Homo sapiens: one gene and its partners. The protein of the gene in region 3 interacts with the protein of the main gene of each other region in a biochemical or structural test. Each region holds a gene or a part of one and is shown on either strand. Other genes may lie near its edges.

What was found.
Region 1: of the proteins of MORC2 (region 3) and SENP1, one has a biochemical effect on the other in vitro, tested with the Homo sapiens proteins (one study listed by BioGRID).
Region 2: the proteins of MORC2 (region 3) and NAT10 form a complex in vitro, tested with the Homo sapiens proteins (one study listed by BioGRID).

The regions. Positions count from the first base shown.
Region 1 is NC_000012.12:48,066,979-48,077,191, forward strand, and holds part of SENP1 (sentrin-specific protease 1), read right to left. Parts: intron 7,816-10,213; coding exon 7,712-7,815; intron 7,630-7,711; coding exon 7,346-7,629; intron 4,744-7,345; coding exon 4,689-4,743; intron 1-4,688. UniProt on the Homo sapiens protein: Protease that catalyzes two essential functions in the SUMO pathway.
Region 2 is NC_000011.10:34,133,416-34,143,628, forward strand, and holds part of NAT10 (RNA cytidine acetyltransferase), read left to right. Parts: intron 1-903; coding exon 904-1,005; intron 1,006-1,096; coding exon 1,097-1,171; intron 1,172-1,759; coding exon 1,760-1,876; intron 1,877-3,226; coding exon 3,227-3,360; intron 3,361-3,562; coding exon 3,563-3,611; intron 3,612-5,775; coding exon 5,776-5,872; intron 5,873-5,969; coding exon 5,970-6,080; intron 6,081-6,984; coding exon 6,985-7,157; intron 7,158-7,673; coding exon 7,674-7,793; intron 7,794-8,303; coding exon 8,304-8,402; intron 8,403-8,859; coding exon 8,860-8,933; intron 8,934-10,029; coding exon 10,030-10,113; intron 10,114-10,213. UniProt on the Homo sapiens protein: RNA cytidine acetyltransferase that catalyzes the formation of N(4)-acetylcytidine (ac4C) modification on mRNAs, 18S rRNA and tRNAs.
Region 3 is NC_000022.11:30,937,747-30,947,959, reverse strand, and holds part of MORC2 (ATPase MORC2), read left to right. Parts: intron 1-1,510; coding exon 1,511-1,619; intron 1,620-5,688; coding exon 5,689-5,848; intron 5,849-5,957; coding exon 5,958-6,069; intron 6,070-6,401; coding exon 6,402-6,527; intron 6,528-7,122; coding exon 7,123-7,202; intron 7,203-7,918; coding exon 7,919-8,001; intron 8,002-8,253; coding exon 8,254-8,339; intron 8,340-9,754; coding exon 9,755-9,895; intron 9,896-9,990; coding exon 9,991-10,145; intron 10,146-10,213. UniProt on the Homo sapiens protein: Essential for epigenetic silencing by the HUSH (human silencing hub) complex. Recruited by HUSH to target site in heterochromatin, the ATPase activity and homodimerization are critical for HUSH-mediated silencing.

The DNA of each region.
Region 1 (10,213 bases), on a different chromosome or scaffold from region 3:
AAGAAAAATTTGACAAATGAGCAGGAGGCTTATGAGAAAATTAAAATATTTTCATCAATAAAAACAATCATTTAAATTGTTTATATGAGTGCTTTACAAGTATGGAATAAGTAAAAGGAATCTAAATGACATAAAATAATTGTAACTAGGAATTAAGGAGACACAATCCTTATGCATACATATTAGTTAAAATCATATGGATACATATTAGTTAAAAAGGTGACCCAAAGTTCAGCAGAGATACTACATTTGGCATAGCTCCCTACTTGCATGAGACCAACATTACGTGAAAGAGGACATCACTTCTCAAAATAATACATTAAGCTAGAACATTGCTCTTCCCAAATGACTCAGATTGAAAGATTTATTAAAAATCCCCACACACAAAATAATCTACATCAAATGGCTAACAAGCCAATGAGCCAAAGCAGAGAATCAGCAACACAACTTCCTTCCAAAGATGACAGGCCAATTCTAGGTCCATGTGGCTCTGCTGACAACCCAAGTGATATGCTGAGCAGAGCCACAGACATGATTAATTGTCCTAGAGCCTCTTGTTTTTCTCAAACTTCCTTATCTCCAAACTCCTAACTAGGCAGGATCTATCACAGAAACACAAAGAAGAAGAGTGAACACTTTTCCAAAGAAAACTATTAAATATAGAGAACAAGTAAACAGAGCATCAAATTGGGAGTTAAGAGACCTGGATCAGAGGCCAGGCATGGTGGCTCATTCCTGTAATCCCAGTGCTTTAGGACGCTGAGGTGGGAGAATCGCTTGAGCCAAGAGTTCAAGACCAGCCTGGGCAACATAGTGAGATTCTGTCTCTTAAAAAAAAAAAAATGATCTGCAACTAGAATAGTGCTTGGCACAGAGTAGGCATTTAGTGTTGTTTGTTTGTTTTTTGACTCTCACTCTGTTGCCCAGGCTGGAGTACAGTGGCACAATCTCGGCTCACTGCAACCTCCACCTCTCGGGTTCAAGAGATTCTCCTGCCTCAGCCTCCTGAGTAGCTGGGATTACAGGCACCCGCCACCACACCTGGCTAATTTTTTCTTTTTTTTATTTTTATTTTAGTAGAGACGAGGTTTCACCATGTTGGCCAGGCTGGTCTCGAACTCATGACCTCCGGTGATCCATCCACCTTGGCCTTCCCAAAGTGCTAGGATTACAGGCATGAGCCACCATGCCCAGCCATATAGTATTTCTTGAATAAACAAGTAATGTAGGGACAAGCAGTTTTCTTCAATGGATCAAGGTATCCACTGGCTCCGGAAAACAAAATGCAGGGAAAATCTGCTTTTCCAAAGAGATGCATTATTTCTCATATAATTGAGGCATATAGTAATAATAACTGCAAATGTTTTTGAGCACATACTTAGTGCTCTACATGTAAAACTCTGCTCTAGATGTTTTATGTATTAGTTAAGCCTAATGAAAATCCCTATACTATTTAAACCTCAACATAATATATAAAAAAGAATTATTACTCATACTGTACAGAAATGAAAAAGGAGGTTCAAAAAGATAATTTCTCTTGAAAGGCTAGGATTAGAAATCTTATCTGTCCAATTCCAAAGACTGTGTTCTTTCGACTGTGCCTTTCAATAGATGAAAGCATTAAAAAAAAGCGGGGGAGGAATAAGTACTTGGGCTACTCAAGAGAGCACTTCAGGCTATCTAGGAAATTCATTTGTTTAACAAAGATTTATTTACTGAGCACCCATCATATGCCAAGCACTATGACCAGCAATGGGTGACAGATACAAAAGTATTAGTAACAAACAAGGTAGAAGGATGGAGGGAAAAACTAACATTATCTGGCAAAGTCAAAGAAATCTTCTGAGAAAAAAAAAATAACACCTGGATGAGATTTTGAAAAGCAAAATTAAGGCCAGGCACAGTGGCTCATGCCTGTAATCCCAGCACTTTGGGAGGCTGAGGTGGGTGGAACACCGGAGGTCAGGAGTTCGAGACCAGCTTGGCCAACATGGTGAAACCCAATCTCCACTAAAAATACAAAAATTAGCTGGGTGTGGTGGCATATGCCTGTAATCCCAGCTACCCTGGAGGGTAAGGCACGAGAATCACTTGAACCCGGGAGGCGGAGGTTGCAGTGAGCAGAGATTGTGCCACTGCACTCCAGCCTGGATGATAGAGCAAGACTCTGTCACAAAAAAAAAAAAAAAAAAAAAAAAAAGAAAGAAAGAAAAGGAAGCAAAATAAGAGCTTACCAAGTAGACAGAGAGAGAAAGGGACATCCAGACAGAAGGATCAGAATGTATAAAGGCAAAGAGGTATGACACAGCATAGCATATTCTGGGAAATAAAAGCAGATCTTCATTACTGGAACTTAACTGAGAGGCAGTAGTGGAGAATTAAGAGTAGAGAGCCAATAAACCAAGCCTCAGCAGAGTAGGCACCAACTTTGACAAAGAGCATTGCTCAAACAGCCTTACCCAACAGACCATTTCTCCTGCCATCTCATTCTTTAGTCATCACTAGGGGAAATCCTCCGTAAAGGAAAGGCAGTCTTAGTAAAGAACCATTAAGGAACTGAGATCAACTCTTTACCTGAGAGATCAACTTCTTCCCAAGAAAGTTGCATGCATCTTGTGGCATTTCATGTGAAGCACTTATAAAAATAAGTGTTTTATCTGTAAGTTAATCTTCACAATTAAGTGTAAGGTATCAATACTGGCATTTTATTGATAAGGAAACTGAGGTTCATAAGAGTAACTTGTCCAAAGCTACATGAAGCCTTTTCCAACCCAAGATCAGAAGGCAGATCTGACTCCAAAAAAGATGTAAGAAATAAAGAATCCAAACTATGAAGTCTCCCCAAAAGACTTAACAAATAGAGAATTTTAAGAAATATTTAAAGCTTAGAACATATGGGGAGCTGCAAAGAAGTAGGGGAACTGAGATGAGAAAGAATATTTCATTACTCTTAATCTTCTCAACGGAAAACTGATATTATTCTCATCCTAGCAATTGAATTCCCAAAGCCATATATGGCAAAGGCATAGCAATCATAGTAATGGTTACTATGGATTACTATTACTGTATTACAGAGGAAGAAGTATTTGATACCTCCAGATAAGTAAAGTTTCATGCAGAAGTTCACATGTGAGTTGAGACCTAAAAGATAAAACACTACTGACAGACAAAGTTGAGGTACGGAGGACATTCCAGGCAAAAAGAACACTGAATGTGAAGGTAAGAAATGCTTATTGTATTTGCAAACTGAAAATAGTCCAGCTTATAAAAACACATGAAAGAGTCCCATATTTCCATATGGCTCCCTCTTACCTCCATCATGTCTCTGCTCAAGTCACTTTATCAGAGACTTTCCATGACCACCCTATACAAATAGTATCCTCCCAATCCTACTCTATATATTACCCTGCTTCAATTTTCTTCATAGCACTTATCACAAGGCATATACATTTGTTTATCCTTCCCCTCAAGTAGAATGCAAGCTCCTTGAGCATAGGGACTTCACATTGTCCTTCATCCTTCCCCTCAAGTAGAATGCAAGCTCCTTGAGAATAGGGACTTCACATTGTTCCCTATTATCCTCAATATTTATACTAGTACCTGGCACACAGTAGGCTCTCAGTAAATATTTGTTAAAAGTGAGAAAGTGAGGCTTGTGAAAGAAGTGCTTTGTATACCATAGTAAGGAGCCTGAGCTTAATTCAATGTCTGATAAACCACCCTTGAAGGAGGTTAACAAATAATCATTAAACCCCTTTAATGAATGATCAGACATGAATTCTGAAAGATCACTCTGATTGCAGCATGGAAGATGGACTAAAGAACACAGCAGGCCGGGTGCAGTGGCTCACACCTACGATCCCAGCACTTTGGAAGGCCAAGTTAGGAGGATCGCTTGAGGCTAGGAGTACAAAACCAGCCTGGTCAACATAGCAAGATCCCGTCTCTACAAAAGAAAAATTTAAAAGTTAGCCAAGTATGGTGGCATGCATATGTGGTCCCAGCTGAGGCAAGAGGATCACTTGAGCCCAGGAGTTCAAAGCTCCAGTGAGCCATGATTGTGCCACTGCACTCTTGCCTGGGTGACAGAGCAAGACCCTGTCTCAAAACAAAAACAAAAACAAAAACAAATGAAAAAAGAGCAAGGCAGAAAAATTGTTTCAAGAACATGGTATGGTGGAAGACGGAATGAAGAACAAAATAGAGGCTGAAGGAAGAACAATTATAAAGCCACTAAAATAATTCAAGTAATACGTGAGAAAGGTCTGAATTGAGGTAGTTTTACATTATGTAACTTTTAGTGAAAAAGCTGTGATTAAAGAAAGGGAAAACAATATGTTAAGAAGAAACTTTTAGGCCAGGCATGGTGGCTCACGCCTGTAATCCCAGCACTTTGGGAGGCCGAGGCAGGTGGATCACTTGAGGTCAGGAGTTCGAGACCAGCCTGGCCAACACAGCAAAACCCCATCTCTACTAAAAATACAAAAATTAGCTGGGCGTGGTGGCGGGCGCCTGTAATCCTAGCTACTCGGGAGGCTGAGGCAGAAGAATTGCTTGAACCAGGGAGGTGGAGGTTGCAGTGAACCAAGATCGCGCCACTACACTCCAGCCTGGGCAACAGAGCGAGACTCCGTCTCAAAAAGATATATTAATTAATTAATAAAGAACAAGCTTTTTCCAAAGTTTACCTGGGAGTTGGAGTCTGGGAATCTTTCACTTTCAGTAAAATCACAGAGTCTGATCCTAAAGAAACACAAGAGCATTTCATTAGTAATAAAACTCCACAAAGTTATACTTTCTAGATATCTTAGTTTAAGTTCCCATACTTTGCTATATTTTATTTCCACAAAAATAACATAAGAACAAAGGTTAGATGGGAGAGAGAGAGAGGCAAGTCCATTGTCACTGAGAACAGAAATAGGTCTTAGTGAAGAATTTGCTTCACAAATAAGAAAATCCCTGGGAAATAACAAACATATTTGCCCTTCAGAATTTCCTCCTAGGCTGCACTTGCTCCCTGTGCTTCCTGTCTGTTTCAGGAGAACAAGAACATGGCAGGATTCCTTAAAAGTCTTCATGGTAGTCCTCTATCTGCAATTTTGGTTTCTATGGTTTCAGTTACGCATAGTTAACTGCGGTCCAAATATATTAAATGGAAAATTCCAGAAATAATTAGTAAATTTTAAATTGCATGCCATTCCAAGTAATGTGATAAAAATCTCTATCCAGCTCTATTTCAGGCATGAAATCATCCCTTTGTCCAGCATATCCATGTTGTATGCACCACCTGTCATTTAGTAGTCACCTCAGTCATCCAATTGACTGTCTCAGTATAGCAGTGCTTGTGTTCAGTAACCCTTACTTAATAATGTCCCCAAAAGGCAAAAGTAATGATGTTGGCAATTCAGGTATGCCAAAGAGAAGCCGTAAAAAGTGCTTCCCCAGCCTGGCCAACATGGTGAAACCTGTCTCTGCTAAGAATACAAAAATTAGCTGGGCATAATGGCTCACACCTGTAATCCCAGCTACTCAGGAGGCTGAGGCAGCAGAATCGCTTGAACCCAGGACATGCGAGGTTGCAGTGAACCAAGATGGTCCCACTGTACTCCAGCCTGAGCAACAGAGTGACACTCAGTCTCAAAAACAAACAAAAACAAAAACAAAAACAAAAAACACTACTTCCTTTAAGTGAAAAGGTTAAAGTTTTTGATTTAATAAGAAAAAAGTAACATCTTCATTACAGTATATTGTTATAATTTTTGTTATTAGTTATTATTGTTGATCTCTTACTGCACCTAATTTATAATCATTAGTATGTATGTATAGGAAAAAACATGATGTATATAGGGTATGGTATATATAGTATACTCTCCATGGTTTCAAGCATCCACTGGTGGGGGGCGGGTCTTGGAACATATCCTCCCCCCACAGATAAGGGGGAACTACTGTAGTTCATGATCTACAATGCGACTGAATTAGGTGAAAGAAGGGGTGGGGGAATGGAAGAGGGAAAGAAACTGGAAGAAGGAGGGAAGGGGGACAGGGAAGGAAATAGCACCCCAGGAGGTGTCTAAAAAGTACAAATTTTATCATTCTATTATGTATTTTCTCTGTTGAATACTACTCAAAGGCAGGAATCATGTTCTTCTAAAGTGCTGTCATTAGAACCTCAGAGTATTTATTACATGGTACAAGGAAAGTAATTAAACAGTGCAATGTAGTATATTTGTTTCAACTTAGTTGTATCTAAGTATCTGCAACACAATGTATGTTTCTGAGGTTAAAGGAGTTTGGGTTTTTTGGCTTTTTTTTTTCCTTTACAGTTCTCAGTACATCACCTCACAAAATATAACAAGAGTCTTCATGGATATGTGTAGCTATACAATGATGCTACCAAAAAGTTTAATCCTGAGTGAGAATTTTCACAAAGTACAAATAGATTAAAAAAAAAACCTCAAACAACCTGAGAAAGGAGGGGAAAGACTAGTGCTCCATCTATCAAAAAATCCCTGATGTTTAACCATTTAACCTATAACTTGTTTTAAGTTGCATACCTAAGTACATACCATAAATTGATACATAATACATACCTAAAGAAGGGGGAAATTAAGGAAACAAACCTATCACGACAAAACCTTAATTAACTGGAATGCAAAGAGAGTGAATATTTCAGTTAGTTGAAAGTTACGTAGAAAACTTTTTGCTTCCAATGCTGACAATCATTCTAAAACGCACAAACCTAAGTACTTAAGCTTCAGTATTTATCTGATGTTTCAAAACTCCTACAACTTCAGAATTCTTACTTACCACTGTAAAGTCATAGAAACAGAGAAAGTGCTGAAGCAATTGGGCTGAGTATATATACTTTGACTCTAGCCTGTACTTAGGAAGTTGTTTAAATAAAATGTATCAAATCATTTGCATCTTGAGGTAAGAAAAAAAGAATATCCTATTTGTGGATTTAGTTTACTCACAGCATGGTTAACTGAATCATATGTATTTAAAGTATGTAAGTACATGTCTTACAAGTTCAGTATCCCTTATCCAAAATGGTTGGGACCAGGAGTTTCAAATTTTGGATTTTTTGGACTTTTGAATATTTGCATTATACAATTTGAGCATCCCAAATCCAAACATCCAAAATCCCAAATGCTCCACTGAGCATTTCCTGAGTATCATGTTGGTATTCAAAAAGTTTCAGATTTTGGAACATTTCGGACTTCATATTTTCAGATTCGGTATGCTCATTTATTTATATGTATATTACAATGTTGCCTGTAATGAGCTAATGAACAGTTAATTGGCTATTAGGACTAAAAATGTAGTTATATGATACCATGTTTACCTTCAGATTGTGTATTTGAAGCTGCTAAGTTATCTGGCTGATGTGGAACAGAGTGGTGATGATGGGGATGATGAAGAGTACCAGAATCTTTGGATCCAAATGCAACATCTGGGGTATAAGAAGATAGGGAATATACACTGTGGGACAGCTGTTCCTGGTTAGTTAAAATGCTGGCAGATCCAGATGATGAAGTATCAGAGCCAATGATCTGAGATGCACAAGAGTTTCCATTTTTAAACAGTGAGTCTTTCAAAGTATTTTTACTGGAACTAAGACATCGAGACCTAGCAAGAGAAGAATATTGTTTCAATATCAAGTAATAAATTGTAGAATTAAATTCATCTGAAATATGCTTCTGTGACTCACAGGTGTAAAGGAAAATGTGTGGTGGGTTTGGCTATAGTAAACTGTTTCCCTGTGACCATCTGTAGCAGCTGTCTGTAAATCTCTCTTTCTTCTTCTTGAACTGTCTATAAGAAAACAAAAAAAAAAAACAGTTTAAACACATCCAATAAGGCAAGTATTTCTCAAACTAGCATGTAAACAGAATCCTAGCTCTGCCAAAGCTCAGGCAGAATCCTTAAGATAATTAAGAATTATGGGCCTAACACAGTGGCTCATGCCTGTAATTCCAGCACTTTGGGAGGACAAGCGGGGAGGATCATTTGAGGCTAGAAGTTCAAAACCAGCCCAGTCAACATAGTGAGACCCCAACTCTACAAAAGAAAACTTAAAAAAAAAAACCAACTGGCTGTAGTGGCACATGCCTGTGGTCCCAGCTACTGGGGAGACTGAGGCAGGATAATCACTTGAACCTGGAAGGCGAAGGTTGCAGTGAGCCAAGATGGTGCCACTACACTCCAGCCTGGGGGCAGAGCAAGACTCTGTCTCAAAAAACAAAACAAAACAAAACAAAACAAAACAAAACAAAAATTATCAAGTGTGTAAAAGACAGGTTGAGTAAATACCAGATAATATACTTTGAAAAATTATGGAACATATATTTAAATAATAGTGCAGAGGAACTATAGGCTATAAAACCAGAAAGCCAGCAGGTAATCACTTCTGAGTCAAAAAAGAGTCCCAGAAAAAAAGGGCCTCTAAATTAGGATTCCAACAAATCCCTTGACTCCTGAAACCTGTTAGAAAAATCACAAGGAAGTAACCAGACTAGTCAAAATCAGAGTGGAGTATCTTGCCAACAGTTTCCTATTTTATTTAAGTGCAGGTACTTTCCAGAGACAATATTCATCTCCAACATGTATTTATTTTTCCTGTAAGACCCAATACTACATTTAGTGAAAACCATATACTTCCTAACATTCATTCATTGACATGAACACCTACTATGCTCCAGTCACTAAAGATAATGAATGCATCAAATAAAATAAAGTTCCTGCCCTTGTGGAGATTATATTGCAGTGAAAGGAATCAAACAAAAAACCAGTCAGGTAGTATGCAGAAAATTAAAGGGTAAGAGAATGGAAAGTGATGGAAGGAGAGCAGCAGGAACAGGTAAGATTTCTCTAAAAAAAAGTGATATTTCAGCAGAAACCTAAAGCCAAGGGAAGAAGTCAGTCCTAGAAATATATAAAAGAATATTCCAAATAGAGGAACAACACATGCAAAGCCCTGAGAGAGGAAGGTGCTTAATGCGTTCCAAAAATAGTAAGGTCCATGTGAATCAGAAGAGTAGGAAGAAATGAGATCACCTGACACAGAACCAGATTACATAAGGACTTACAACTCTGGTAAAGCATCAGTTCTATACAGGTCCCCTGACTCAATGGGCTATGTTCACTAGCACTTAGTAATATGCCCTGGCAATTTATTTTTAATCTTATATACAGTTTAATACAACCACCAATCCTCAAAACATAATTTTAAACATTATGTCAGTGTTAGCACCATCTCGTACTGTGATATTTCGATATGTGCTGGGACTACAGGCGCCCGCCACCACGCCCAGCTAATTTTTTGTGTTTTTAGTAGAGATGGGGTTTCACCATGTTAGCCAGGATAGTCTCGATCTCCTGACCAGCCCAGGCTGGAGTGCAGGTGCGCCATATCGGCTCACTGCAACCTCCACCTCCTAGGTTCAAGTGATTCTCCTGCCTCAGCCTCTGGACTAGCTGGGACTACAGGTGCACGCCACCACACAGAGCTAATTTTTTTTTTTTTAATTTTTAGTACAGACAGGGTTTCACCATGTTGGCCAGGCTGGTCTCGAACTCCTAACCTCAAGTGATGCGCCCACCTTGGCCTCCCAAAGTGCTGGGATTACAGGCATGAGCCACAGCACCCAATATGTAGTTTTTGCTTTTTTTTTTTCTTTTTTGAGACGGAGTCTCACTCTGTCACCAGGCTGGAGCGCAGTGGCACGATCTCTACTCACTGCAACTTCCACCTCCCTGGTTCAAGCAATTCTCCTGCTTCAGCCTCCCTAGTAGCTGGAACTACAGGTGTGCGCCACCACGCCCAGCCATTTTTTTTTATTATTTTTAGTAGAGACGGGGTTTCACCATGTTGGCCACAATGGTCTCGATCTCCTGACCTCGTGATCTGCCTGCCTCGGCCTCCCAAAGTGCTGGGATTAAAGGCGTGAGCCACGGCGCCCAGCCACCAATTTGTAGTTTAACACTTGGTCTCCTTCCACCCTCCCATCTTGTAGTCCCCAGTGTCCACTATTCCCATCTTTATGTCCATTTGTACCCAATGTTTAGCTCCCACTTATAAGTGAGAACATGCAGCATTTGGTTTTGTTTCTGCATCAGTTTGCCTAGGATAATGTCTTGCCTATGTTTTAACAGTTTTGTTTTCTTGGTATTGAGTTGAGCTCCTTATATATTTTGAATATCAACCCCTTAT
Region 2 (10,213 bases), on a different chromosome or scaffold from region 3:
TGTTTTCTCCCTTTATTACAAAAGCAATACATGGTGCATTTTGAATTAGAGGCTACAGATTGGGGAACAAATTTTTAATGCCTAGCATGGATGTATTTATGCATTTCTATATCACTTTTCCTTTTCATATACATAGTAATCTGCTTTTATTTTTAGGCAGTGTATAAAACACTCATAATCTACATAAGTTTTAAAGCTGTGTAGTATTTCATTATATACATGTACCATGATTTGTTCAACCATTCACCTGTTAGACATTTTAGTTATTTTGAACTTGTGCTGTTCTGTACAGAGCCTCATGAGCATCCTGTGTCTTGATGGCCTTCACACACGCACAGCATACATAGAGACTCTCTTCTAATGTGGCTTTTACTTTTTGGGTCAGGAGGCTGTCAGTCTTCTGCCCTGTAACATGGGGCCTGGTAATTAAGCTCCTGTTAAGAATGGATGTGTCAGGCCAGGCGCCATGGCTCACGCCTGTAATCCCAGCACTTTGGGAGGCCGAGGCGGGCGGATCACAAGGTCAGAAGATCAAGACCATCCTGGCTAACACGGTGAAACCCCTTCTCTACTAAAAAAAAAAAAAAAAATACAAAAAATAAGCCGGGTGTGGTGGTAGGCACCTGTAGTCCCAGCTACTCGGGAGGCTGAGGCAGGAAAATGGCATGAACCCAGGAGGCAGAGCTTGCAGTGAGCCGAGATAGCACCACTGCACTCCAGCCTGGGCGACAGAGTGAGACTCCATCTCAAAAGAGCGGGGGGAATGGATGTGTCAGTGTCAGGGTTAAACCTGAACATGGGGGTGGAAACAACTGGCCTAGTTCGAGAAACAAGCTATATTCTGTGAGTGGGCTCTGTATCAGAGTTGGCCTTTCTGCCTGCACTGTCCTGCTTCCCCCACAGGTGTGCCTTGAAGGGGAGATTTCTCGCCAGTCCATCTTGAACAGTCTGTCTCGAGGCAAGAAGGCTTCAGGGGACCTGATTCCATGGACAGTGTCAGAACAGGTGACGGGCTTTCCCTGGTGTGTCTGAGGGAAGCTGGTGGTGTCCAAAGATGTCTGTGTTGCTAAGTTACTGGTTTGTGTCTCCCACACAGTTCCAAGATCCAGACTTTGGTGGTCTGTCTGGTGGAAGGGTCGTTCGCATTGCTGTTCACCCAGATTATCAAGGGGTAATGTGTCCTCAGGCTCCCCTGAAGCCGTGTTGCTGGCGGTGCTTTAGGGTGGGGGTACTTGGTGGCTGGAATAAGAAGCTGGTCAAGCAGAAGCAAGTGAAGTGTAGGCACTTCCCTGCTCTGGAGAATTGAGCCAGGGTTCGGGGTGGGTGGGTGGACAGGATGATGGCATATGCTCACTCTTCCTTTGTGAGAACGAGGACTTGTGAACCAGACCTGCATAACAAAATTACCTTCTTAGAACACCTCACTGAGTAATTGGCTGTAGAAACTTCCTTTTCAGGCAATGGTACAGAAACTGCCTCTCATTTGGGCTTGCCCATCTGGAGACCAGAAAGCACAGCCATCCTTACCCTCAAGTGGCTGTTCTTGATGAGCTAGACCAGTGTTAAGAACTCGGGTCACACTACTTTCAGTCTTAAGTGTCTCTGCTTTGACCTCACTCAGGGTTTTCATTGGTTCTCTTGCCCCGTGCTGTTTGACAGGGAGGGAAGGTTCTCTAGAAGCAATGCAGGGGAGTCACTGTGGCTTAGACTGAGAGCAGCTCTCTTCCCTCGGCCTCTTCCCCTTCACGTTTGCTCCTAGATGGGCTATGGCAGCCGTGCTCTGCAGCTGCTGCAGATGTACTATGAAGGCAGGTTTCCTTGTCTGGAGGAAAAGGTCCTTGAGACACCACAGGAAATTCACACCGTAAGCAGCGAGGTAAGCATCTTTCGACAGACCTCCTGTGTCCTGGTTCTTGGGAGGATAATTCTCTGGGTTTTTAGGGGCATCAACAAAAACCAGTCCAGAGCTTTGGACCCCTCTCTCATTTTCTTCTGCTGCTTTCTCCTACCGAACACTTTAGATCCTCAGATCAGTATCATTGGGATCATCTGGCAGCTTGTTAAAAATGTAAATTCTTGAGCCCCACTCCAGACCTACTGAATCAGAAACTCTGGGGTAGACCCTGTAATCTGTAGTTTAACAAGATTCTCAGGTGATTCTGATGCTCATTCAAGTTTGAGAATCACTGCTCTATAATCTCTTTCATCCTACACCAGACTAAGGGAAGTTCTGTCATTCCTTGATAAGAATGACTAATACTAGTAACTGTGACAGCCTTTCATGTGCATTCATTGATTTTCATAGTATGTATATTTGAGAGCTAGACAAGGGGCTTTTATTTAAGTTGAGGCAGCTGGGCAACATGGCGAAACTCCATCTCTACAAAAAATACAAAAATTAGCCGAGCATGGTGGTGCACGCCTGTAGTCCCAGCTACTTGGGATGCTGAGGTGGGAAGATTGCTTGAACCCCAAGGTTGAGGCTGCAGTGAGCTGTGATCTCGCCACTGGACTCTGGCCTGGGTGACAGAGCCAGACCCTGTCTCAAGCAATGAAAAAAAAAGTTCAAGCTCAGAGGTTTGTCACTTCCTAAGGCTGTCAGGTGATAGAACCTGGACTTCATGCTGGATCACAGGAGCCTGCCTGTCCCTTTGTAAATCTGTTGGGCATTTTTTTTTTTTTTTGAGATGGAGTCTTGCTCTGTCTCCCAGGCTGGAGTGTAATGGCGTGATCTCAGCTCACTGCAACCTCTGCCTCCCAGGTTCAAGCAATTTTCCTGCCTCAGCCACCTGAGTAGCTGGGACTACAAGCACACACCACCGTGCCTAGCTAATTTTTGTATTTCCAGTAGCGATGGGGTTTTGCCATGTTGGCTAGGCTGGTCTCAAACTCCTGACCTCAGGTGATCCACCCGCCTCAGTCTCCCAAAGTGCTGGGATTACAGGCATGAGCCACCACTCCCGGCCTCTGTCAGTCGTTTCTAAACTCTTTGGCTGTCTTCCTGCATTCTAGAGGTCTGAAGCAGTGTGATTCTATGCATGTTGAGGTGTTTTGAGAATGATTGCTTGACTCCGGTGTTCTCATAGTTTGAAAACCACAGCAATAAACCAAGAAACCTCTCCCAGTTTTTGTTGTGCTAAGTCCAGAGTGCGCTGCGGCAGGGTGCTTGACGATGTCTCTCTCCCTCTGCTGAATGGACTGTGTTCTCTCCTTGGCATCTTCCCAGGCTGTCAGCTTGTTGGAAGAGGTCATCACTCCCCGGAAGGACCTGCCTCCTTTACTCCTCAAATTGAATGAGAGGCCTGCCGAACGCCTGGATTACCTGGGTGTTTCCTATGGCTTGACCCCCAGGCTCCTCAAGTAAGTGCCTGCCCTCCTTCCACGGCATCACTCCTTGGCATTGAGAAAGAAGAGTTCTGTGGGCTGTGTGTCTCTGTTGGTAGCTGGTATCGGTGCTAGCCTGCTATTTGTGGCGTGCTCTTCCTGGCTCTTGCCCTTGTGTGTCTATCAGCCACTCCCCAGAGGCCACACACAGTGACCTACTGTCTTTGTATCTTTGCAGGTTCTGGAAACGAGCTGGATTTGTTCCTGTTTATCTGAGACAGACCCCGGTGAGTGAGGCATCCAGCAGAGGAGAAGTTTAGGTTTACCGTTATGGTAGGTGACAGGCCTGTCCTTGCAAAGAGCCCTAGTGCCTCCCTGCTGCATCGCTCTGAGCAGGTGGCTGTGCCTCTGAAGAGGTTTATTCTGATGGACATGGAAACAGCCATCCTCAGTGACAGGCCACATCATCACACATTTCTTCTCCGACTACACGGTGCATGCGTTGAGCTTAGTCATAAAATGGCAGAGGTACACGTGGACTTGTTCATCAGATTCTGGGAAAGGAGAGTGGACAGGAGGATCAAGGGTAATTCCTAGAGTTTTGGCTTGAGAAACTGGGTGTTGGAGGTGCTGTCGGAGATGGGACTCACTGCAGGAGGAGCAGATTTGGAGGGAAGAGTGGGAGTTCTTTTTTGATGTTAATATGAGATGCCTATTGGACATCCAAGTGGAAATGTGGACTAGGCATTCATTTGACTACAGGAATTTGGAGGTAGGGAAGTTTGGGGCTAGAGATGGAGCTTTGGGAGCCATCAGCATATTCATAATAGAATGCACTGCAGGAGGGCACGGAGCTCTTGTCTGTTGTGTTCATTGCTGTATTCCTCGCACTTAGAGTAGCAATTGCTGTGTAGTTTGTGTTCAGTAAATACTTTTGTTGAGTGAATGAAAAATATCTGGAGCCAATGAAAGGATGTGAGAGTGACTCCTTGGACCCTAACGTTTAGAGGAATGAAGAGGAGGACACAGCACATACAAGACTGAGAAGGAACAGCCCTGATGCGCAAGAGAAAGTCGGGTGTGGTGTCACACGTCAAGGTGAAAAAGTGGGAATGGGAGTCAGCCCTGTTGAGAGGATGAGGAGGATGAGGACAGCTGGCCATTGGATTTGTCAGCAGCGGTGAGCTGCATTGAAGCAGCTGCAGTGGAGTGGAGGCTTTGGCCTGGCCAGAGGGAAGAGGAGGTGAAGAACTAGAAGGGGAACAGGCGACTCTTTCAGGAAGCGAAAGGGAGCAGAGAAACAAGGTCGCTGGAGGGAGATGGGCGCTAAAGAAGGATTGTCCGATGGGAGATTCTAGAGAATGTTTTTTGCTGCTGGGTTCGATCCTGCAATTAGTGGTATGGGTGAGGGGGGCTGACTGCCAGAGTGCAGGCCTTGAGGAGGTGGTGGGTGGGACTCGAGATTCAGGAAGAGAGGTGACCACCTACTTCATCCTTCGGAACAGGGAAGGCAGAGAGCGTGGGAATGGAAGGCATCAGTTGGCTGGCTGATCTGGGGTTGGGAGGATGAAGACATTGTCTTCTGAGTGCTTCTGTCTTCCCAGATGAGGGGAGTCCATCGGCTGAGAGGGAAGTGTTGGAGGTTTGATTTTGGAGAGGGCAAAGTCAGTATCAGAGGCTAGTGTCCAGTGTCCGTCCGAGGGTTTAAAGTGGGACTGGTGAGGACTGCTGGGTGTTGGGCTGCTTCCGTGCAGGCAGGGAGCTGCAGAGATGGGTTGAGTCTCTGTCAGTACATTTGGTGGAGGCTGAGGATGTAAGTTTGGCTGTCAGCTGCAAGGAGAACGCAAGCTAGTGAGCTGTGGTGTGGTCTGCGGTGTGTCCGTGTGGTCTTGCACTGTGCACTGTTCATTTGTGACTTGGTGGTGTTTTTATGGTGTGGGGCTTTGTTGTTATGGAGTAAAAAATGTAAAAATAGTCACAATTTTAACACCTAAAGAAGCCTGCACTTGCAGACTGGCTGCCAGCACTGAGGTGTAGGTTTTGGCCCTGGAGTTCCTGCTGTGAGGCATCAAACCCATGTTGACTGGATTGTGTGGCGCTTAAGCCCTAATGACTGAGTTCAGCATCTACCTGAGAGGAGCACATATTTCCCTCCCGCACGTCCCGAGCAAGAGGCAGGCCCAGAAGAGCCAGCAGCTCTTCTCTGTGTCTGTGACACTTTTGAGGAGATTGCAGGACAGTGATCTTTGCAGCTGTTGTGTGTGAACTGAGGTGATATGAGGAAGGTGAAGGCGAGGGCTGTTTGAGAAGGGCGCCTACCCCCAGCCTGGAAAGAAGGAGAGGCCTGCGGAAGCACTAAGCCTTTCTTCTCTGAGTGTTTACCCTTCATCAATGATGGGTTATTCAAAAAAAGGGGGTTCTTGGTGCCAGTTAAACCTCTGTGTTGCCCAGAATGACCTGACCGGAGAGCACTCGTGCATCATGCTGAAGACGCTCACTGATGAGGATGAGGCTGACCAGGGAGGCTGGCTTGCAGCCTTCTGGAAAGGTGACTGAGGAGTAGGGGTTTGGGGGAGACAATGAGGTGATTGGGGGCTGCCGGGGATGCCTCCAGACCTCTAACTCTGCGTGATGGCACCCCACAGATTTCCGACGGCGGTTCCTAGCCTTGCTCTCCTACCAGTTCAGTACCTTCTCTCCTTCCCTGGCTCTGAACATCATTCAGAACAGGAACATGGGGAAGCCAGCCCAGCCTGGTGAGCCGGGTGGGGACAGGGAGGAGGGTTGGGAATGGCTTGGCTGTGTGGGAGGTGGGTGTGGTGTCCTAGGAAGGGTTTGGGCTGGAAATTGAGGGACTGGTTCTAGCCTGCAGTCACTCGCTGGTCACCACCCGCTTGCCAGGCCCCTGCTCTGTCCCAGGCTGTGCTGTCTTTCATTTTCATGGTAAGACTCTGGCTGTGCAATTTAATGTCAGAGGTGTCCATTTAGTTCATGTAGCTGGTTGGTTATGGAGGCCGATTTACATCTGTGCTCTAGGGGAGTGAGGTGCTCCATCTCTGAGGTTTAGTTTCCTGATTCATGAAATTGTAATAAGAATATGCTGCTAGCCTTCTGTAGCCAACAGCACACAGAAGTGCTTTGTGCATACAGATTGTTTGAATACTTAAAAAACAAAAAATGTGTAAGAGATTAGTTTTATTGCATATTTTATATATAAATATTTAGGTATAGCATGCATATATGTGTATATGTGTGTGTATATACTTTTTTGCCAATTATATTTTGATGGAGAAATCCGTATATCTTGAGCTGGGCAGAGCTTACACACTTTCTGTGACACCAAATGAAGTGACAAAGCAGGGAAAGAGTGTAGTTGTGTTCCCCTAACCCTGGGCCACAGGGAGCTTTTCCTTGGTCCATGTGTTCAGTATGGGAACTGAGCAAGGGTCCTGTGGCAGCCGTCCCCTCCCCACACGTGGCCTGGAGCCGCCCCTTCTATGGCAGGAGCAGGTTTGGTGCCCCTCTGGGCCAGGGCTGTGTGGTATGGCTGCCAGGCCCTGTTAGATGCTCCTGTGTGTTAGGGTGCCGCCTGGGGGCTGTGTGCTATCTCATGAGGGCGCCGGGTGACCTAACCTGTCTAGCTCTCTATCCCATGGACAGCCCTGAGCCGGGAGGAGCTGGAAGCACTCTTCCTCCCCTATGACCTGAAGCGGCTGGAGATGTATTCACGGAATATGGTGGACTATCACCTCATCATGGACATGATCCCGGCCATCTCTCGCATCTATTTCCTGAACCAGCTGGGGGACCTGGCCCTGTCTGCGGCTCAGTCGGTATGCTATCTGTTGCTTGCGTGGAGGAGAAGCGAGGATTGTGGAGCTGTTCATTTGCTGGGTGTTGGGTTGGGCACTTGGACATAATTGTGTGCCTTTAATTCCTCATACATCTGATAGGTGGGTAGTGGCATCCTCATTCTACAGGTCAGGAAACCTGGGCTCTGAAGTCGAGTAATGTGTCCAGCCATACAAAGTGAGAGAGCTGCAGCTTCCACCCCACTACGTTGCCTTGACACTTAACTCCACCTTAGCAGAGGTTCAGGAACATCCCAAACTTTTAATGTAGTTGTGAAGCAGGTATTTGTCAGGATAAAAGTTACTTTGGGGATTTTAGGAAGACAGCATTTCTTGGTGGTCTCAGTAACAGGATGAAAGAGAAGATGCCAATATACACAGTGCTAGTCTACCTTTGTACCAATAGCTTTGGTCAAGAGAGTACTCTGGTTCTTGGCGCCATTTTAATGGGCAAGGGCGTGTCCTAGAGGCCCACCCAGCAGATTTTCCATCCTTTAGGCTCTTCTCTTGGGGATTGGCCTGCAGCATAAGTCTGTGGACCAGCTGGAAAAGGAGATTGAGCTGCCCTCGGGCCAGTTGATGGGACTTTTCAACCGGATCATCCGCAAAGTTGTGAAGGTAACCTCAGCCTGAGGGCAGGGGCTTGATGTCTCTCAAATAGTGCAACAAACCCACTCCCTGCTCCCGAGATGAACACATGTTAGCATTTAGCTGTGTTTGCTGCATCTCGTCACACACACACACACACACACACACAAATCCAGGACTTCAGAACACATGTTAGCATTTAGCTGTGTTTGCTGCATCTCATCACACATCACACACACACACACACACACACACACACACACACACACACACGTGCGCGCGCAAATACAGGACTTCAGCTCTAAAGAATCTGTGAAGTTCTGTGTCCTCTCCCAGAGGCATCCCTATTAGGAATTTGGTACATATCCAGTCTGTGTTCTTCAGCTCTTCCCGCTAATATCCACATTCCTAAACTGTAGAGTGTTGCTTTGTGTCTTCAAAATGCACACCTTTCTATAAGACACCAAGTGTCTGGGTCACGGGTGACTGGGTCCCTGCTGCTCCTTCATCTTCTGCTTCTCTGTTGGTTGTCTTTTGTAGCTATTTAATGAAGTTCAGGAAAAGGCCATTGAGGAGCAGATGGTGGCAGCGAAGGATGTGGTCATGGAGCCCACGATGAAGACCCTCAGTGACGACCTAGTATGTCCCTGCTCATGGCCTCGGGAGTCCCAGCATTTCCATCAGTTGCCTTAGGCTGTGAATTCAGACTGTCTTCCCCTTCCCCTTTAGAAAGAGTCCTCTGCACTAATTGAGCTAAGTGCTATTCTGTAGGTTTAATTGGACAAACGGACCCAGCATTGTCTGAGCACACACAGGCCTAGAGTTGTGCCTCCCACTGATTGTGTGTGTGTGTTGTGAATGTAGGATTCCAGCATCTGTTGGAAATGTTTTGTCTTTTTTGGTGACTTCTTAAATGCATAGTTTATAACAGAGCTACCTTAAAATAATCAAAGCTGCCTACAAGGTTTTTGCAGGTAGATGGAAGAGAAGGAAATGTTTTCTCATCATTGTGCCATTCCACCCCAGCTTCACCTTTTCCTGTGTTTGGTTCAATCCTTGACTCTGACTTAGTCTCTTTATGGGTCCTTAACCACAGGATGAAGCAGCAAAGGAATTTCAGGAGAAACACAAGAAGGAAGTAGGGAAGCTGAAGAGCATGGACCTCTCTGAGTAAGGCTTGTGGGAAGCAGAGGGTTTGCCTTGGCTTCTGGGGCCCTAAGAATCTGCCTACACGTTTCTTCTAATCATATCCCACGTGCCCTGGAAAGTGTCTTTCATGGGATCAGTTTTAGGGATGCTAACAGTTCTATTTGACCTTCTAATTGCCTGTTTGTATAATTTTGGAAGAGTTGGGTTCCGGAGACTAGTGCCGCCACTTTGACTTACACATTGCACTCTCTGATCCCCAAGGCTCCAGGTCACACCTCGGGTCCTTCCAGGAGTGGGGGTGCCGATTGGATGAGCAGGCCCTTTAATGGTTACTTACTCTATTTGGCTTTTACGTGTGACTTTGTTTGAAGAAAGGATTCTACTGCTAAAACCAACCAAACAAGCAAAACACCCCTTGCTCTAAAACCGTCTGGGAATCCTAGTCCCTTTTGTGCTTCAGCTGTAGTGGTGCTGCCTCTCCCTCCACTGCCTGGATTGATGTGAATAATAACTCCAGAATTCATGGCCTCTGAGCCTCTGTGACCTGTAGTCCTGTTTCTGGGTCATTAGTGATGGTGGCTGCTGGGTATGTGAGGTGGAGGTGGCCAGGAGTCCTTGGACAGAGAATCGAGCTCTAGTTTTTGCCCTCAGCTTTGCAATATCAAAACCTTGATTTGCCAGGACTGCTAAATCTGAAAGAGAAGGGAGGGAGGGGAGAGGCACAGTTCAAGGGCTTGTGGACAAATGCTTGGAGGTGGGAGTGAGTGAGAAGATTGTGGGGGTGACAGGAAGCTTCTTTGGTGGATGTTAATGAGAGTCATGTGGGAAGAGCCAGGCAGGCTGCCTTCTGTGCAGGACTGTCCTCACTGACCCCTGCCAGCAGGCCTGGTGACCCTCGCTCCTGTGGAGCTTCTATCCATAGAGCTAAGCACCATGTCTCTTGGCCCTCCTGCATGCTTGTCCCCTCTGTCCTTTCTGCTGTTCAAATGCTGACACAGCTCAGCCTGGCTTTCATGACAGGAAGTGTCTGATAAGAATGTTGTCACTGTCGTTATTTTCTCTTAAGCAGTCCCCTCTTCTTTCTAGCAGGCTTTGATAGTTCCCTTCTTTTTTTTAGATACATAATCCGTGGGGACGATGAAGAGTGGAATGAAGTTTTGAACAAAGCTGGGCCGAACGCCTCGATCATCAGCCTGAAAAGGTGAGGGCCCAGGGTCTGATGTGCATCTGGCGGAAGAGGCATTCTGGCCTCTCTGCTTCTCTTTAACTTTGACTAGAAAATAGGAGGTTGGAGCAAAAGC
Region 3 (10,213 bases):
GAAACCAATTCAGAAGTTGAATAAGTTTCAGGAGAAGGTGATTTGTGGGGAGAATAGGGCTGAGAAGCAAGGAAGCCAGTTAGAGAAGTGATATTTGGGGCTTTTGCTATTCAAAGGCTAAAGTCAGAATCAAAGACAGAAGGAAGATAGAGGCACAAAGTGAGAGTTTTTGCCAAATTAGGGCAAGGGCATGCTTTGACAGAAGGCAAGATAACGTGCCTTACTTGCTCCCCATACGCTTTAGGGAAGGAGGAGGAGGTGGTGTGTGAAATTTTCAGGGCAAGGAGCATTGCCAGCACTTTGGGTACTGGAGGAGGAGAACGAGGACTTGGCAGCCCCCAGGGTATCTTTGAATAGTGTCCTGGGAGTTTTCCTGAGTGTTTGGGGAAATGGGGCATGACATTCATTTGTGTGCTTGGCATGCCAGTCTGGTTTGTATTGGTACACAGAAGAGAGTAATGAGGCTTTCCACCTCCATCATCTCCCTGGGGTGTTATAAAGACTAATGAGATAATAGCCATAAAGCTCCAGAAGCTGCTGGAAGAAAGGAGCTGAACAGCCCCATTGTTCAGAGGGCGGTCCCCCTGCTGGTGCTTCACACTTCTGCCCTGCCCTGCGTTGCCTGGAAAGGCCTGTCCCTGCCTGCTTCTTAGCCAGCTTAATGTGGCCAAACAGAGGAAGGAAGCAGTTGAATCCATTCAGACTTTTGCCTTTTGGAAATCAGCCTCAAGGCACAGTTCCCAGAAACCAGTTGCATCCAAAAGCAGGGAGCTGCCTGTGTCATAATGAGCTTGAGGTGGCAAAACACTTCTGGGACAGGAGATAGCTCCAGTTATTGGACATGAGCTAATTACAGGCATCCTTGAATCCTGTGGTCAAGAATTATATTTTATTAGCCCCTCTGTATTACTGCGCCTTGGGTTCATACTGATGTTTTCTCGGGCTTGTGAGTATAGGCACTGGGCTTTTCACTTAACAGTGCTGCTGCCGTTTCGTCAATGGAGGGGAGTTTGTGTCAGCTGAGGAAGGACACGGTGGGAACTGGGGGTGGTCAGCATGGAAGATGACGTGTTGAGGGTACCAGCTACTAAAGTCTGATGGTGGTACAGTCAGAGGGCACAGCACCTCTCATGCGTCTGGGATGAACCAAGAGCTCAAAGACAGCAGGGTTACTCTTCAGCGTTGTGGGGGGAGTGAGACTAACCTGGGGCTGGTGGTCTGCCGTGAGCCCGCCCTAGAAGGGTGGTGAGAGAACCCTGTATGGTGTGGTTGAGAACGTTGTAAGTAAAGACTAAGGAGTTACAGGCCTGTGGAAAAGCAGAGGAAGGAGTGTTGGGGGATGGAGAGGGAACGAGGGCTGTGGAACTCAGCACACAGTCCTGGGACCTGGGGGGGCCTTTAGGAGAGCCCTCCAGTGGCACTTTCAATCATGTCCAGAGTGGATTGATTTCTTTTGCAGATGAGCTTTTGACTCCTGGGAGAATAACACCCATTTCTGTTTCCTTTTCAGGGGCTCAATGCGCATTGGGAAGGATTTTATCCTGTTCACCAAGAAGGAAGACACCATGACCTGCCTCTTCCTGTCTCGCACGTTTCATGAGGAAGAAGGCATTGATGAAGTAGGTCCCATCATCGTGGTCTGCATCACCAGTCCTCATTTCCTGAGTCTGCCCAGGCGGTTTTCGTAGGTTATTTGCAATGCTAGACTCTTTGGGGTTGCAGGATTGGAGCACATTCCCCCTAATTGTTATGCAGTTAGCTGGCTGGATGAATTGGTTGAGGGGTTAAGGTAGATAACTTTAATGTGAGAGGAAGCAAAATCTCAGAGCACTTCAGAGAACAACTGTTTCCGAGAATGAGACTGTCAAGTGGCAGGAATTAAGAGTTGGATTTGCAGCTCCTCTAGATCTGCCACTTGAATTCCATTTTGGGGGGAGTGTTACCATGGAACATTGTTTTATCAGGGGGAGTATTTTGGGCTTCCCTGATCATGGTGTTTCCTATTTGGTGGTGATTTTGTGGAATGTGCTATGAGCTCATTTTCCTTTTGAAGAAATGTGTTACTCTATGTCAGAAACTATGACTCAGATACCTAGAGAGAGCCTGGGCAGGTAGTAAAGCAGGTGAGTGTATGGAGAACAGGAAAACAGAGCTGATGCTGTGGGTCTCGTCTTGGGAGTGGCTGCTACACAGCCCCAGTGATTACTGCTATGCTGGAAGGAAGGACTAATGAATCCAGAATATTCTGAGTTTAAATCATTTTAGTAATTGACTATGTAAGCTAAACACACATTTGGCCGATTCTCCTTGTGGCTCAGATGTCTGCAGAGCTGTTTCTGGTGAGGTCTATGCCCCCTCATTGTGGGAGATCAGGGCAGCTCTGTGGACTACCCAGCCTCAGACTGGACTCTTATCTCCTTTCCTATGTAAGACATGGAGGCCAGGGCTTGAAAGAAGGGGGGCTAAGAGGTTCTGTGGAAAGAAATCCGCAACTTCCACAGAAGCAGGTAATTGAATTCAGACTTACAATTTAATTCATCTGTGTTGATTAGCTGTGATTAAATTTGTTCTGGTTCTGTTTAGATCTGAGCCTTAATCATAGCAAACTTGTTCAGGTAGGGAATGGTAGGCCTTCCGTCATTACGTAGCAAGCCAGTGGGTTTGTCTGCCTTTTTGGTGTGGTATGTGAGTTCATTCTGCATACTTGAGTGAGAGAAGCGTGGCAGCTGGAAAGAGCAGGCTTCTAGGAGAAGTAGGATAGGAAAATATAGCCTGGGTTGGGGTTTTCAGGAATGTTTCCTGATACAGGACTGAGGATGGTGACAGGAGGGTATGGAAGTCAGTAGAAGCAGCCTGCTTAAGGCCCTGAGGGCTGTGGGAGGGGACTTGGCTGCAGGGCCACCTGGAGAAAGGTGGTGGCCTTTGGAGATCAGAGAGGGCCAGGTTAGGCTTGACCTCGGGGCCTTGATGAATGTGTGGGGCTTTATTAAGCAAGGATGTGCCAGTATCAGATTCTTTTAAGAAGGTCCATGTAGCGATTGTGTGGTGATTGGGTTGGAAAGGTTAGGGTGAGTGTTGGAGTGTTCCAGTTGAGAGGCCCAGGCTCTGTAGCTTGGCGGTACTCGCCCAAGGGAGGTGAGAGAAATACATGGAGTTTCCATCTCTTTAGGATGTGGGACCCACAGATTTGGTGATTGATTGATTAGTAGAAGGCGAAAGCGAAGCAGGGGAGTCATGGATGACTCATAGGTTCTGCTGTGGCAGTTGGGGAGTGGGGTCTCTGGAATTGGGAAGAATGAAGAGGGGAAGTATGGAGGGGAAGAGTGTAAGTTTCTTCTGGACATGCAAAGTGCAGTCTGGGTCTGGCATTTGGGGGAAGTCTGGGGGCTTCAGCATTCTTGGTAGCAAACGAGGTCACCTAATGGAGAGAATAGAGTGAGAAGAGGATCTGGGACCTAGAGCATGTCAATATCTAAAGGTCGGGGAGAGGAGAAGGGGGCCAGAGGGACAAAGGGGTAGCCAGAAAGGTAGGAAGAAAACTGGGCAAGTGTACCATTGAACTAAAGGAGAAGTGTTCCTGAGGGGAGGGATGGGGTGCCCATGGGAGTGAAAGCCAATGTTTAAAGTGATGCCATTGTCACCTGGGATGGCTGTGAAGAATGGGAGGCGTAGTGAGGTACAGGTTTATAGAACACAAATGGAACTCGGTTCCCGTGGTGGAGAGGCTAGGTTGAGATTTTTTCCTTACTTGGTGCTAGAAGGTCGCTATTTTGGATTGTACTCTAGTGCAAACTCAGCCAAGATTTCAAAATAAGATCATTTTCAGTTGAGGAGGAATGTGTCCAGACCAGCCCTTGGGTTGAATAGTTGCAGCACAAAGCTTCTTAGAAACCAGCAAAATGGGCCGGGCCTGGTGGCTCACGCCTATAATCCCAGCACTTTGGGAGGCTGAGGCGGGCAGATCATGTGGTCAAGACCATCCTGACCAATATGGTGAAACCCCGTCTCTACTAAAAATAGAAAAATTAGCTGGGCATGGCAGTGTACGCCTAGTCCCAGCTACTTGAGAGGCTGAGGCAGGAGAATCACTTGAACCCAGGAGGCGGAGGTTGCAGTGAGCCGAGATCGTGCCATTGGTGGAGGTTGCATTGAGCTGAGATCATGCCATCGCACTCCAGCCTGGGCAACAAGAGCAAGACTCCGTCTCAAAAAAAATAAAATAAAAAAACCCAGCAAAATGTCTCAGAACTCTTAACAGTTTGTCACCCCAGCACTTGTTAAGATTACAGAGTCCCTTTTTCCTAAGGGTTTGAACCCCTGAGGTGCTTAGCCTGGCCTGCTCTGCAGAGGAAATCCTTCAGGCAGCCATCTGCAGGGCTCTGCAAGGGCTGCGGCCTCATAACCACCGAGGGAGGAGCCTCTGGGGAAGTGGCATATGAGGTTGGGTTTTTGAAGAAAGAGTAGGATTTTTTTAAAACATCACTTAGACATTATTTAAATTAAATTTCACATAAATGGAAGAGTGTATTGAAATATTTATGCAGTTCAGAGGACAATTTTAAAGGCAACACCTGTGTTGCCACCATCACAGACTGATGTTAGAAGTGTCCTGTGTGCCCTCATCAGTCATATTTCTTCTTGTGCCCCCGAAGGAACTGCCTTCAGGTAACTTTTGTGATAATGATTTCCTTCTTTTTCACTATAGTTTGTCACCCTTGTATGCATTTTTAAATAATAGTTTAGTTTTGCCTATTTGTGAATTTTTTAGAAATGGACTCTTACTGTAGGTATTTTTTGTATCCTATTTCATATAACACTGTGTTTATGTTGTTCATCCATGTTGATGCTAGTAGTGGTTAGTTCATTTGTATCACTATATAGTGTTCCATTGTACAGTTTAATTTGGCCACTCTAGAATGGATATTTGGGTTATTTTTATTTATTTATTTATTTTTGAGATGGAGTCTTGCTCTGTTGCCCAGGCTGGAGTGCAGTGGCACGATCTCAGCTCACTGCAACCTCCGCCTCCCAGATTCAAGCAATTCTCCTGTCTCAGCCTCCTGAGTAGCTGGGGCTACAGACGCACGCTGCCACGCCCGGCTAATTTTTTGTATTTTAGTGGAGACCGGGATTCACCATGTTGCCCAGACTGGTCTCAAACTCCTGAGCTCAGGCAGTCCATCCACCTCAGCCTCCCAAAGTGCTGGGATTACAGACATGAGCCACTGCACCAGGCCTGGGTTATTTTTGTACATGTTTACTGGTACATATGTACAAAAGTTTCTCCTAGGGTATGTACCTAGGAGTGGAATTGCTGAGTTTTAGGTTATGTTATGTGTATTTACTGATTCACTAGATAATTGCAAATATATTTTCCCTAGTGGTAAGAGTAGAATTTTTACCAAATTAAGAAAATGACCAGGGACGTCCCAAGCAGGGAACTTCTCATGCAGAGACCCTAAGCACATAAACCAACATCTCCTGAAGGAAGTAGTCTTGTGTGGCTGAGTCTTGGGAAGAGGCAGAAGCCCTGAAGCTCACAGAGCCTCTGGTGCCAGGCTGTGGAGCTTGGGCCTCACCTACAGGGCAGTGTGGAGCTGCTGTGGGGAGGGACAAGAGAGATGCACATTTGGGAGGAAGGCTGTTCTGGGGCTTCCCTTAAAGTGCCTGCTCATGTTTACTCCACAGGTGATAGTCCCACTGCCCACCTGGAATGCTCGGACCCGGGAACCTGTCACAGACAATGTAGAGAAATTTGCCATTGAGACAGAACTCATCTATAAGTACTCTCCATTCCGCACTGAGGAGGAAGTGATGACCCAGTTTATGAAGATTCCTGGGGACAGCGGTAAGTAGGCTTTGAGCCTGTAGCCCCTAGAATCTGGGAGCTCCAGAATCACAAGTAGTGTGGGGGTGGGCCGGGGGATCTGGCAGGACAAAAGATTTCTGTTTCTCAGGAACATTGGTGATCATCTTCAATCTCAAACTCATGGATAATGGAGAGCCAGAACTAGACATAATCTCAAATCCAAGAGATATCCAGATGGCAGAGACGTCCCCAGAGGGCACGTGAGTGTGGCTGGGAAGGGAGGGAGGCCCTGGAACTGGCGTTTGTGCTCTCAGGAGATGGCTTCAGGGAAAGAGGGGAGAGCACATTCATTGCCCAGTGTTCTGTGGTAGGGTAGTATGTAGGGCCAGCTCAGTTGCCTGTGGGGTGCCTGTGCTGAGGACGTGAGAGGGGCGGGATGTGGTGCTCACACTAAGGGAGCACCAGTTCAGGGCAGCAGCAGAAGTCAGTACCTAACATGGAAAGGTGGAGAGCCTGCAGAGAGGATGTTGTGCCCTTGGTCAGGCCTGTTGTGGAGCAGGTGACAGCACTTCTCTGTTTTTGCCCTCTCCAGGAAGCCAGAGCGGCGCTCGTTCCGTGCCTATGCCGCTGTGCTCTATATTGATCCCCGGATGAGGATCTTCATCCATGGGCACAAGGTGCAGACCAAGAGGCTCTCCTGCTGCCTGTACAAGCCCAGGTAGGGGCCAGTGCCCCTTGGCCTGCTGTCTCCCATGGGTCGAGGATGTGGCCGCGTTTCTCTGGGGCATTGTTAGAGGGATGCTGTATAAGAGGCTCTGGCAGTGCTGACTACGTTTGGGACTTTAAGTTGCCTGTGATTGGTCACAGGGTCAGTTCTGGGTCCTAGAGGAGGGACAGATCAGCTGTGGAGGTGGCTGGCTAAGCTCATTGAGTATGTGTGCCTCTGTGACAGGGAGGGTGCCCTGCCTGGCTCAGTGAGCTGTCTGAGTCTCTTGGCTTTAGGGCCAAGGGGCCTTTAGACACTATATAGGAAAGCAGTGGGCTTGGCTTACTCCTGAGGTTTGTTTCTGCTGTGGGATGAATGACAACCCTGGTGAATGGTGAGGTTGCTTATCAAAGACAGCAGGAGGCTAAGGGCAAGTGGAATAAGGAACTGCACCTTTTTGCTGAATTGAGCTTGGATTTGTCTCATCATGAGGGGCCAGGACAGCACAGCTTGGGAGGAGGCAGGAAGGCAGGGTGCTTCCTGTGCTTGGGTGTGCCACCTGCCCCACTGCTGCGTGGGCCATCAGCTTGCTTTTTCTACTGATCAGGATGTACAAGTACACGTCAAGCCGTTTCAAGACCCGTGCGGAGCAGGAGGTGAAGAAAGCAGAGCACGTAGCAAGGATTGGTAATGCCACTCTGGGTGCAGGAGTTGGGGGGGTGTGCATCTGGGGTATGCTGCTTGTGGGCAAAGTGGGGTTCCAGGAAAAGGCTGAGTCCACAACTCAGGGACAAGGCTGGTCTCCTGAAGCATAGTTCAGTTCCTTTGCAGCCCCTTTCACTACATGCCAACTCCCTCAGCATTTCTTCTTTCTACACTCCACTTTCTCTTCTTCTGCCATTTATAGGGCCTAAAAGTGTCAGCTCTTTGGCTTATCCCAATTGAAGAATCCCACTGAGTTCTCTGGTGCAAATACTTGTGAAATTGCTTTTCCTGACTTCAGGGCAAACATCTCAGGGGCTCTCTCGCTGTTCAGGGTTTCTCAGGGTTTCTCGGCTGCTTGTTGGAGAGTGATTGGCTGAAGACTTCTTTAGCTTCCAGCTCAAGCTGAGTGTTCAACTGGTTGCCTTAGGTGTTTTTTTTTTTTTTTTAAACCTGTTCTGGTTCATTTGTAAAGTTTCCTTGGGGCCTCCGTGATAGGTTTGAATGCCAGATTTTCCTTCTGTGACTGACTGCCGTCCAGGCACAGAGGCTGCCCTCACATTGCTCACCAGCCATAGCTCCCCCTACTCTTTTTTTCCTTGGTGGTGTACACACTTCGTGTCCAGTACTGTGGATCCAGGAGGGATGACCAAGAGTTTTGAACCTTTGCATTTCTTACCATGTTCTCTTCTGGGTTTCAGCTGAAGAGAAGGCGCGGGAGGCAGAGAGCAAAGCTCGGACATTAGAAGTACGCCTAGGTGGAGACCTCACGCGGGACTCCAGGGTAAGGTCCCGGCCCAGGCGGCTGTTCTCCAGCGTTTCTGGCACTAGGAGCCCATGTCCCATGAGCCTGGTCAAGTAAAACACAGCTTTTGAGTTTGTCCCCAGTGAGGGCTGTTTTCTGTAGAAAGAAGTAAATTTCCAGGTGTGGTTTTACATCTTTGAGATAAATTGAGATGTCTTAGATGTAATGTTTCAATATTCCCTGCTGTGGCCTAGAGTGCCACCTCCCCTCACCTGATGTCAATGTGTGCAGGTGATGTTGCGACAGGTCCAGAACAGAGCCATCACTCTGCGCAGAGAAGCCGATGTCAAGAAGAGGATCAAGGAGGCCAAGCAGCGGTGAGTGCCAGGCCTGTCCTTGGATCTTTTAAACTGACGTAGCTTTTGGACTGATTATTGACAGGTTGCTATTCTGTCACCAAGACTGCTTTGTTTTAATGCCAAATGCTTGTCAAATGCCTCCTGCAGGAGGGAAGTCTTAATCCTAGCTCTCAGCCCTTTTTTGAGTCATAAAGACAGGGCAGGGCTGACAACCTCGGCTCGAGCACCAAAACCATCCTTTGGCACTGTCTTACCTTTTCTTCCCTTTTTCTTTCTTTCTTTTCATTTAAAGGATGTATAAAATGCTCATTGTATGAAACTTGAAAAATATAAAATGTTTAAGGAGTAACATTTTTAAACTCCCTTATACTTCTACCACCTGGTGATACGACCCTATTTTTTATGTTACATATATATTTTTTCATATTCATTTTCTCCTCAGTGGTTATGTATGTAGAATAATGCTGGAGATTGAGTGTTGTATACTTTTGCATTTAGAACCAGCATTTGTCCTGGATCATTAAGTTTCCTGCTTGTCCCACCTCCATGTCTGGATCCTCTTTGGACTCTGTGGCTTGATTCACTGTTTTGCCTCTTGTTGGCCTCCTTGGCACAGGCATGGGTTTCAGGTTTTTTCTCTCCAAGTCAGTCCACTCCTCATCCATCTGCTTTTCAGCTCTAAGTTTTTGTTGATAGTAATCACATGATGGTGTCTTATTGCACATGCTTATTATTCTTGTGAATTTTTGCCTTTTAAAATAATAATAATTGGCCGGGCACGGTGGCTCACGCCTGTAATCCCAGCACTTTGGGAGGCTGAGGTGGGTGGATCACGAGGTCAGGAGATCGAGACCATCCTGGCTAACACAGTGAAACCCTGTCTCTACTAAAAATACAAAAAATTAGCCGGGCATGGTGGCGGGCACCTGTAGTCCCAGCTACTTGGGAGGCTGAGGCAGGAGAATGGTGTGAATGCAGGGTGCGGAGATTGCAGTGAGCGGAGATCGCACCACTGCACTCCAGCCTGGGCGACAGAGCAAGACTATGTCTCAAAAAAAAATTATAATAATTTACTATCATACTAGTGGAATTTTGGGGAAGGTATGACGATAACCTGGTGTTTATTCCAACATATAATTGTCTTTGCACAGATTTGCAGCAGCTTCGTAATAAACAATTCATATTTAATGAATATGAATGGTTTGGCAACCATCCCTGTTGCCAAAAAGCCACACTCATGTTTTTAATTAGGGATGCTTTGAGTTGGTGCCCAGTGCATGTCCATATCAAGTCTAACAGGTTACACATCAAATAGAGATACAAAACTTTTGGCTTAACATGTTTCAAGTTTAAGCTTAAGCTTAACACATCTTAAACACTATGGTGCTTGTGTGCCGATGTGTAGATCTGCTTGAGTTTTTTTGTCTTCTTAGAGCACTTAAAGAACCTAAGGAACTGAATTTTGTTTTTGGTGTCAACATTGAACACCGGGATCTGGATGGCATGTTCATCTACAACTGTAGCCGACTGATCAAAATGTATGAGAAAGTGGGCCCACAGCTGGAAGGGGGCATGTGAGTACTACCCACAGAGAGCTGTCTAGCCCAGGATAGTTGGCAGGAGGGCGTTGCCAGTGGGGTGACAGAGCTTGTTCTCTTTCTCCCTGTAGGGCATGTGGCGGGGTTGTTGGGGTTGTTGATGTGCCCTACCTGGTCCTGGAGCCTACACACAACAAACAGGACTTTGCTGATGCCAAGGAGTACCGGCACCTGCTCCGAGCAATGGGGGAGCACCTGGCGCAGTATTGGAAGGATATTGCCATCGGTAATGGGGCTGGGCTGCTGGGCCTCTGCCTTTTCTCTTCACCTGAATGTAGGGAGAGAGAGAGGCTG